3 separate regions of the Homo sapiens genome follow, and regions 2 and 3 are each linked to region 1. Evidence: fine-mapped expression QTL. A gene starts in region 1. Each other region holds a variant in brackets. All regions are shown on one strand. Distances are between the middles of the regions.

Region 1 (2,758 bases):
GGATCTGAAAGGCACCCGGGAGAGGAATCCAGGGAGCCCTCGCATTGCTGAGGTGGGCCAGCTCTGGGGCAGAAAATGACCAAGAGAAGGGTAGGAATGTGCCTGGGGGCAGACACTCAGCCCCACTGCCCTCCCTGAGACCTAGGGTTCGGAATTTGAGGGAGGGGTCAGAGTGGCTGAGCCAGAGCGGGCGCCTCAGGGATTGGGGTTGGGGTGGGGGTTGCCGATGGCCACTCCTTCCCCTGGCTGGGCCGGCCACTAAGGTCAGCAACTCCACCCTGACTGAACGGGGGAGGCCAGGATCTCCAGAGAAGGGCCCATGTTCCACCCAAGTCTTCAGGCTCTGCCTGACTCTTGTTACTCCAGCTGAGGGAAGAAGAAATGGGGTGATAGTCACTGCCTGCCCCTTCTCTGATGCCGACCCCTCTTCATGCCCTCTCTGCCTCTGCTTCTCTCTGCCACCGAGATCTCTTCTCGCAGCCCCTCTCCACGGGTCTACCCAGTACACATAATCCCATCCCGAGCTGGGTTTGGCTTTGGCAGTTCCCTGGAGAAGTGAGGGGTGGGGGTGACGTGAGCTCCCGGGGCCCGGGCCAGGCCTGGCTCCCTCTCTGGAAAAGTCCCACCCCACCCTCCCCTGCGCAGCCCGGCAGGGGCCCATGCCCCCTCCTCTGCAGAAACACACGCACATTTATGCTTCTCACCCCTTTCCATGTCCCTCATTTGGTGTCGTTCCCGGCCCAGGACGAGGAAAGGAGAGGTCAGAGGTGGTCACTCTGGTGCCAGAGTAGACCCTGGTCTGGACAAACGCGGGCTCCTCCTGGCCACACCTCTCCACACTGCCCAGTGAAGACCAAGGAACAGAGACCTGCGCAGGGCTCACCCCTTCACCCCCAGGTCTCCCTGCTGGAGAGTGGTTGGACCCTGTGTTTCTGGGCCTAGCCATGGAGAATCCCTGTCCTGAGTCCGAATTCCCGGGCCCTCAGAGCCCTCCACTCCTGGGTCTGGCAGGCCACCCCAACAGGTGTCTTTCTTTTTTGTCAACCTCTTCTGCCATCGGGCTGAGCTGGATCAAGGGCACCCACCTGCGTCCCTCGCGGCGACCCTGTCCTCCAAGTTCAGGAGTGCAGTGGGGGACACACCGTCCGAGAGCACCCTCCTAGAGAGAGGGCAGGAGGCACCGGCCGCGCGGGGAGGTCATGGGTCTGTTTTCCAACTTTACTATGTGACTTAGGAGGAATTTTGGTTCACTCCCCGCCCGGGTGATGGGGCCAGAGTTCCACGGGATCAGACTCCCTCCCCAGGAATTCGACCCCAGGGGCTGGAAGATTGTCCGAGGCCACCGGAGCTGGGTCCGGGGTCGTGGCGGGGTCGCGACCGCACAGCGCAGGGAGAGGGGACGACGCGGGCGCGCGGGGCGGGCGGTCTAACGGGACCCGGGAGAGGGGCGGCCGGGGCCGGGGTCCCGGGGAGGTCTCTACCTGCTCTGCGAGCCCCCGGTGGCCCGTTAACCCTTCTGCGCCCAGGCGCTCTCTCCAGGCAACCTCGCTCCGCGGCGGCCACTGGGGCCCCTGAGCCGCGCTCCGGTCACGGCCGCCTCGGCCGCAACTCCGCCCTCGCGCCCGCCCCCGCCCAGCCCCGCCCGCCACGCGCCCCAGCCCGCGCCCCTCGGCGGCCCCGGGGTGGGGCCGGTCTGCCTCGCAGCCCCACTCGCCAGGACCACCCACCCCGGGCTGCGCGCCGGGCGCCCCCCGACGGCTGCGTGAGCTGAAGCCCGGGCTGGCCCAGCCGGGGTCGGAGGCTGCAGTCGCTCCCGGGCGCTGTCCTCGTGCCCGGCCGAGACTAGGGACTTAAGCAGCCCGGGCTGGCCCAGCCGGGGTCAGAGGCTGCAGTCGCTCCCGGGCGCTGTCCTCGTGCCCGGCTGAGACTAGGGACTTAAGCAACCCGGGCCTCCGAGCCGCTCGGGTGAGCGGTGCGAACACGGCGCGGCGCGGCGCGGCACAGGCGGGGCAGCCTCCAGGGGCGCCTGGAGCGAGGCGGCCTGGGAGAGCCGCTGGTCCGGGAGGGAAGCGCCCTGGACGGAGGTACCCGCGGCCCCCGATCCGCGTGGGTCCAGGCTCTCCCCTCCACGCAGCCTCCCCTGCAAACTCAGTCACTCCTGCCTCTCCCGTGTTGGGCAGTGGTGGTTCAGATTGCTGGGACTTCTATGAGCTTCGGTTTTTTTCCTCAGTAAGGTTTTACACTCGGGACTCAGCGAAAGGACAGCGTGCTGACTTCTGAGTCAGACTGATCTGGATTTGAACCTCAGCTCCAGCTCTTGCCAGCTATGTGGTCTTCGACGAATACTTCCACCCCTGTGTGGTGCAGTTTGCTCATCTGCAAAATGGGACTAATCTAATATATATGATGGGCTTGGATATGTCTCTTTATGCATTTATACATGGAAGAATGCACCCCAAACTCAGTAGTATTGGTGACATCTGGGGAGGGATGCAGGGTTGGGGGAGGACTGAAAAAGGCTTTTGCTTTTTACTCTGCGTTATGTTTATTATTATTATATTATTATTTATTTATTTTTTTTGAGACGGAGTCTCACTCTGTCGTCCAGGCTGGAGTGCAGTGGTGCTATCTTGGCTCACTGCAAGCTCCGCCTCCCAGGTTCACGCCATTCTCCTGCCCTAGCCTCCTGAGTAGCTGGGACTACAGGCGTCTGCCACCACGCCCGGCTAATTTTTTGTATTTTTAGTAGAGACGGGGT
Region 2 (2,758 bases), 54 kb before region 1:
ACTGCCTGGATGCATAGTGGGGCTCTTCATGTGGAAAAGAACACTGGAAAACAAAAGGATAATGAGAGAGTGGTGGCTATAGAAATAGAATACATCACCTCACTTCAGGAAGTTGCCACTGCCTTTGGAAAGCGCCCCCAGGGAAGCCTCTGATGGAGCCATACAAATGCTCATGAGATAATTCTTAACATCAGCCAGGCCTAGACAGCATGAAGCCACTAATAACCCTTCCTCTTCATTCTGCCCCATTCCTAGAAATATCAGTGTAGCAAAAGGAGAGAAGCCAACTACCCCCTCTTTCACAGAGGCGAGCTGGCTGGCTCTGTTGACCCTAGCTGTGGGGTAGAGAGATTCTTACCTATGATGAAAATTGATGTGTTAATATATTTCGGACCAAGAGTATGTTTTGCTACTTAAAGTGGTTGCAAAGACTATTACCTAAAGGTGATCCACATCTGAGGAAAACCTCTCCCACTGAAATAAATTGTGCAGAGACAGGGGAAAACAAATTAAACTTTAATTTTCATTACATTTCTTCAGTTGGTACTTGTTAAGCATTCCAGTTATGGTCACCTTTGTATTCTCTGAGGCACTTAATTGGCACTCATGATATTGAGATTATTCCTTCCAGATTGTAGTATGTAACCTTCTGGTTAATATCCTCTCTATAATAAAACAAAAGACAGTTTTAGGGACTTAAATTTCAATAAATCTGGTTGAGGCCAAGGAACCAGAAATAAATTGAAAACTCAATTTATTTCAAGGAAACTTGAAATAAATTGAAATAAAGTTAGTTGGAAACTAACTTTAAGATAATCTAGTTCCAGGCCAGGCACGTGGCTTACCCTGTAATCCCATCACTTTGGCAGGCTGAGGCAAGCGGATCTCTTGAGCTTAGGAGTTAGAGACCAGCCTGGGTAACACAGCAGAACCCTGTCTCTTAAAAAAAAAAAAAATCTAGTTCCAACGAATGCCTCCTCAGTGAATCTTTTTCACAGTATCCCTGGAAAGTGAATATTTAGTCTCTTGAATAACTCCAGTGTCTTGAAATCTACTATCTTCACCCTCATGAAAACGTCAAGAGTTTGAGGACCACCTCTTTCTACATCTACTAGCCTAAACATTTTCCCTCCCTTTAGCTAGTCCTCCTTGACATAGTGTGGACTCCTGGCATCACCTTGTCTACTCTCTGGATGAGCTCAAATGTGTCAGTGTGCCTGTCTAACTTTGGTCCAGATGTGGCCTCACCAAGCCAAATAGAACTAAACCATTACCTGCTTGCTTGTAGACCTGGACCGTAGGAGAGCCCAAGGCCCCCTTAGGTTTTCTTTACTACTTATGCTACTGACTCATATCAAACTGACACCTAAGCTGGACATGGTGGTGCACACTTGTAGTCTTAGCTGCTCTAGAGGCTGAGGCAGAAGGTAGCTTGAGCTCCAAGAGTTTGAAACCGGCCTGGGCAACATAGCAAGATGCCCATCTGACAACTGACAAAAACCTACA[G/A]GTGTTATTTTCGGGGTAAGGTAGGGTTGTTTTGATTTCATAATAATAAATTAATGCATTAATTTTATACAACATATAACATTAAAAACCTTCATTCAAAAAAAAAACAAAACTACAGGTTGGACATGGTGGCTCACGCCTGTAGTCCTAGCACTTTAGGAGGCCAAGGTGAGCGGATTGCCTGAGCTTAGGAGTTTGAGACCAGCCTGGGCAACATGGTGAAACCCCATCTCTACTAAAATACAAAAAATTAGCTGGGCATGGTGTACTCCTATAGTCCCAGCTACTCGGCAGGCTGAGGCGGGAGAATGGCTTGAACCCAGGAGGTGGAGGTTGCAGTGAGCCGAGATCATGCTACTGCACTTCAGCCTGGATGACAGAGCAAGACTCCAACTCAAAAACAAAAAACAACAACAACAAAAAAAGCCGGTCGCATGGCACATGTATACATATGTAACTAACCTGCACAATGTGCACATGTACCCTAAAACTTAGAGTATAATAAAAAAAAAAAATTAAAAAAAGAAAAAAAAAAAAAAAAAGCCGGGCTTGGTGACTCATGCCTGTAATCCCAGCAGTTTGGGAGGTCGAGGCCGGCCGATCACTTGAGGTCAGAAGTTTGAGACCAGCCTGGCTAACATGGTGAAACCCTGTCTCTACTAAAAAAAAAAAAAAAAAAAAAAAAAATTATCTGGCCGTGGTGGCAGACACCTGTAATCCTAGCTACTGAGGAGGCTGAGGCAGGAGAATCGATTAAACCCAGGAGGCGGAGAGGCGGAGGTACGGTGAGCTGAGATGACACCACTGCACTCCAGCCTGGGCGATAGCGTGAGACTCCTCAAAAACGATGAAAAAAAAAAAAAAACTACAAACAAGGCTTCCTTGCCATTATTCCAAGTCCTGGTCCTTTCCTTCCAGAGATAAACACTGTTTAATATTGATTATATATCCTTCCAGCCCTTTTTCTATGTATTTACATGTAGAAATATATGGGAATTTTTTTTTTTTTTTAGACGGTCTCACTCTGTTGCCCAGACTGGAGTGTAGTGGCATGATCTTGGCTCACTGCACCCTCTGCCTCCCAGACCAAGTAATCCTCCCACTTTGGCCTCCAGAGTAGCTGGGACTACAGGCACATGCCACCACGCCTGGATAATTTTTGTATATTTTTTGTAGAGACAGAGTTTTGCCATGTTGCCCAGGCTGATCTTGAATTCCTGGACTCAAGCGATCTGCCTGCCTTGGCCTCCCA
Region 3 (2,758 bases), 390 kb after region 1:
GAAGTAGAGCTGGTGGAGGAGCGAGTAAACGGGGCCTGCACAATCCTCCCCCTTCAGTGGGTCACAGCTGTTCCCTCTGCCCCAGCGTTCCTCCCTCTCCCCACAGTGAGCCCCCTGACCTCATCCAAGATACGGTTCTTGGCTCGGGTGATGGCAGAGTTGAGGGCATTGATCCACGATTCCTTCTCTTCTGGACTCACTGCCAGGAAGATCAGGTTGGGTGCCTGTGAGGGGAAGATTCCTGTTTCAGCCAGGGTTTTAGAGGTGGTGCCTCACCTTGACAATGAAGAAATAAGAGATTATAATCTCACTTTCTTAGACCTAGCTCCAGGAAGGAGAGATATTCTGCTTCCAGAGTCATCCATAACTTAAGGAAACCCAGCTTCTATTCCTGCAAAATGCATAGCTAGGAGGTTGTTTTAGAAATGACCAAGGAGGAGCTAAGAAGGATACTGAATATTAGTATGGTATTAGAGATAATTAGAGGAAGTCTGATGAAGGATAGGTATTAAAATACAAATCTTTCAATGTTTGAAGAAATAGAATGTGACAGGAATAACTTCCCTGGGTTCCCTCAGACAAGATGAATTAGATTCAGAACTTCAACCACCTATCAGGGTACAAGGACAGGGATTTTCTTCTAAGGGATGTAAATATGCACATGTGTGGATGTGTGTGTATAAGACAGAGAAAAATAAAGAGATATATAGAGAGATGATCTTTGTGGCTGAACAGGTTAAAGGGTGGCCTGCCTGGAAAGAAGGAAATGGCTACAATATTCTCAGGTGAAATGATAAAAGCCAGCAGGAGAGCAATTCAGGGAATCTGAACCAAGATTGCTGAGAGAGAAACTGAGGGGAAGGAGTTCTCCCCTGCCCCCTCCAACCCTGTCCATGTTCCAGCAGCCAAGGTGGCAGGAGAAACATACCGTGTTACCGGGCTGTTTGGAGTGGGCAAGAGTAAACTTGCTATGATTTTTCTTGCTCCTGCTCTTGGACTTCCGGAGCTCTTCACACTTCTCATAGTCACTCAGGTCAAATACCTCTTGAATATTTTTCTCATCTTTTACCTAGGGGAGGGTTGGGGTGAGGTGAGGAGGATAAAATTATTTAGCCCCTCCACCCAGACTGTTAGTTTAGATCATCTTGGGAAACAGAGGAAGCCTGAGGAGAGGGAGGCACGCCAGGAGAGGAGAGGGCCGTCTGCCCAAAGCCTACAAGGTCCTCACATCGAGGAGGACGCTAGGGCAGCTCCAAGTCTTGAATGTTAAGGTGTGTTTCTGTTTAAACCCCTTCTCTTCACTCTCCTTAGCCAGGCTGCCATTTCCAGAGTCCCACTATGCCTCTCTTCACCAACCGCCCCACTCTTTTCCTTAAGGACACAGCTTACATGTTCTAAAAAGGCTCACGTCCTTAAAGGGACATGGTAGATGGTTGATCCATTGCCCTCAGTAAGACAGACCTGTATGGCCCTTGATGGTCCACAGAAAGAAGATCAAGGCAGGGCCAGTTATCGGGGTGTCTGGAGGGAACGAGGGGCGGTCTCTGGCCTCCCCACTCACATGTGTGCAGTATAGCTCTCCCACCCCACCTCG[C/T]TTCCTTCTCTGGTATGTACAATTATAGAGACTCATCTTCCTTGTTCATTTCAGGAGCATCGCCACCACAGGACGGCAGCCCCGTGTTCAGTTTGCTGAATTTGTCCAGAGAAGCTGAAAACTACAATTACAGTTCCTACCCTTTCCTCCTCCCTCTAAGGTACTGTGACAATCCAAACTAACTCCTCCAGACCCCCTATCTCTAGGCAAGAATGCACTTAGACTCTCCCTGGGAGACTACACTTTAGACTTGGAAAAAAGTGACTTCTGTGACTTCTTGCCATTATTCCAGTTTGAGTGCCTGGGCCCCCTTTACTGCCAGGAAGCTCTTCCTCCTATCTAAACTTAGCCCTCCCTGCTATAGTCTCCGTCCCGCACTCTGGTTCCACCTTTAGCAGGTTTTAAGCAACATTTAGCTCTTAGCACTCCTGCTGAACGTCTCATCGAGGCCGCATTCCTAGTGACATTCTCCAACCCCAACTAGCCTTTTCTGAGCACTGCAAAGCAGCTCTAGGAACATTTCTTCGCAGGTTCATCTGAAACTGACCACAATGTTTTCTCTTTTCCCCTAAGGTGGTGTTCCTACAACTCTGGGACTCTGAAGCAGTGGCTTATGGATTTGTTTTGGCTAGCAAGGACCAAAGTTACAGAGAGGAGACTTAGTTACAAGTCCAGACCGTGCAGTCTGTCCACCCTCCGTGGCTTGAGCCCAGGGTTGGAACACCTCAGGAAAAACCTGGTCACGTTTTCCTGGAATGAGAATTAAAAGCACCAGCACTTGTCTCATTAAAACTAAACAAACAGATAAAAGTAGCCTCACGTCTTCCTTGGATGACATCTACCCACCCTGACTGAAATTATTTTCCAAAACAGTCCCCAACTTCCCAAGTTCTGAAATAGGACTCGTGTGCATGGAGGTGAACTCATCTATCCTCCTGGTTCCTGGAAACCTGGAAGTGGGGAAGTGGTTCTCCCTTCCATTACCCAGACCATCTACAGTCTTGTATCTGCCCATCCTTCTGAACTGCTGCTGGACCTGGAGGCTGATGACAGATGAGGACAGATGTCAACATGGCCCCATTCAGGTGAGTGACGCCTCATACATCTACCTCCATTTGTTTCAGCAAGGCTTGGCTCCTCCAGGGCCTCCCACTTTCCAGGGTT

Direction of the effects. Positions count from the first base shown, and alleles are read on the strand shown. Sizes are in standard deviations (SD) of each study's normalised expression. Not every link is listed here.
For the expression in monocytes of the gene that starts at base 1,573 in region 1, allele C in region 3 goes with a higher level than allele T (large effect, 1.8 SD a copy in Fairfax 2014).

The links. PIP is the estimated chance that this variant, and not a neighbour inherited with it, causes the effect. A credible set is the group of variants that fine-mapping cannot tell apart.
Region 2: its variant is the best candidate, but not a certain one, in a credible set for the expression of ADAMTSL4 in whole blood (INTERVAL, PIP 0.56).
Region 3: its variant is the best candidate, but not a certain one, in a credible set for the expression of ADAMTSL4 in monocytes (Fairfax 2014, PIP 0.58).

What each region holds. Positions count from the first base shown.
Region 1 is chr1:150,548,223-150,550,980 of GRCh38, reverse strand. It overlaps ADAMTSL4 (ADAMTS like 4), which reads right to left and starts at 1,573. Exons shown (of 19, transcript NM_019032.6): 1 at 1,482-1,573; 2 at 1,086-1,159. It overlaps LOC124904417, which reads right to left and starts at 691. Exons shown (of 1, transcript XM_047438226.1): 1 at 1-691. The coding sequence starts at 691. It overlaps ADAMTSL4-AS2 (ADAMTSL4 antisense RNA 2), which reads left to right. Exons shown (of 6, transcript NR_187269.1): 6 at 2,231-2,417. RefSeq lists an enhancer at 1-367 and silencers at 1,703-1,842, 2,013-2,162, 2,094-2,388.
Region 2 is chr1:150,602,027-150,604,784 of GRCh38, reverse strand. It overlaps LOC107985203 (a long non-coding RNA gene), which reads right to left. Exons shown (of 3, transcript NR_186818.1): 3 at 501-665. Among named protein-coding and RNA genes, the nearest start is that of MCL1, 24 kb to the right of the region's middle. RefSeq lists an enhancer at 1-155. The variant G/A (reference allele first, on the strand shown) is at 1,507.
Region 3 is chr1:150,154,377-150,157,134 of GRCh38, reverse strand. PLEKHO1 (pleckstrin homology domain containing O1) reads right to left here. Exons shown (of 6, transcript NM_016274.6): 3 at 929-1,069; 4 at 120-224. Among named protein-coding and RNA genes, the nearest start is that of LINC02988, 5.0 kb to the left of the region's middle. The variant C/T (reference allele first, on the strand shown) is at 1,595.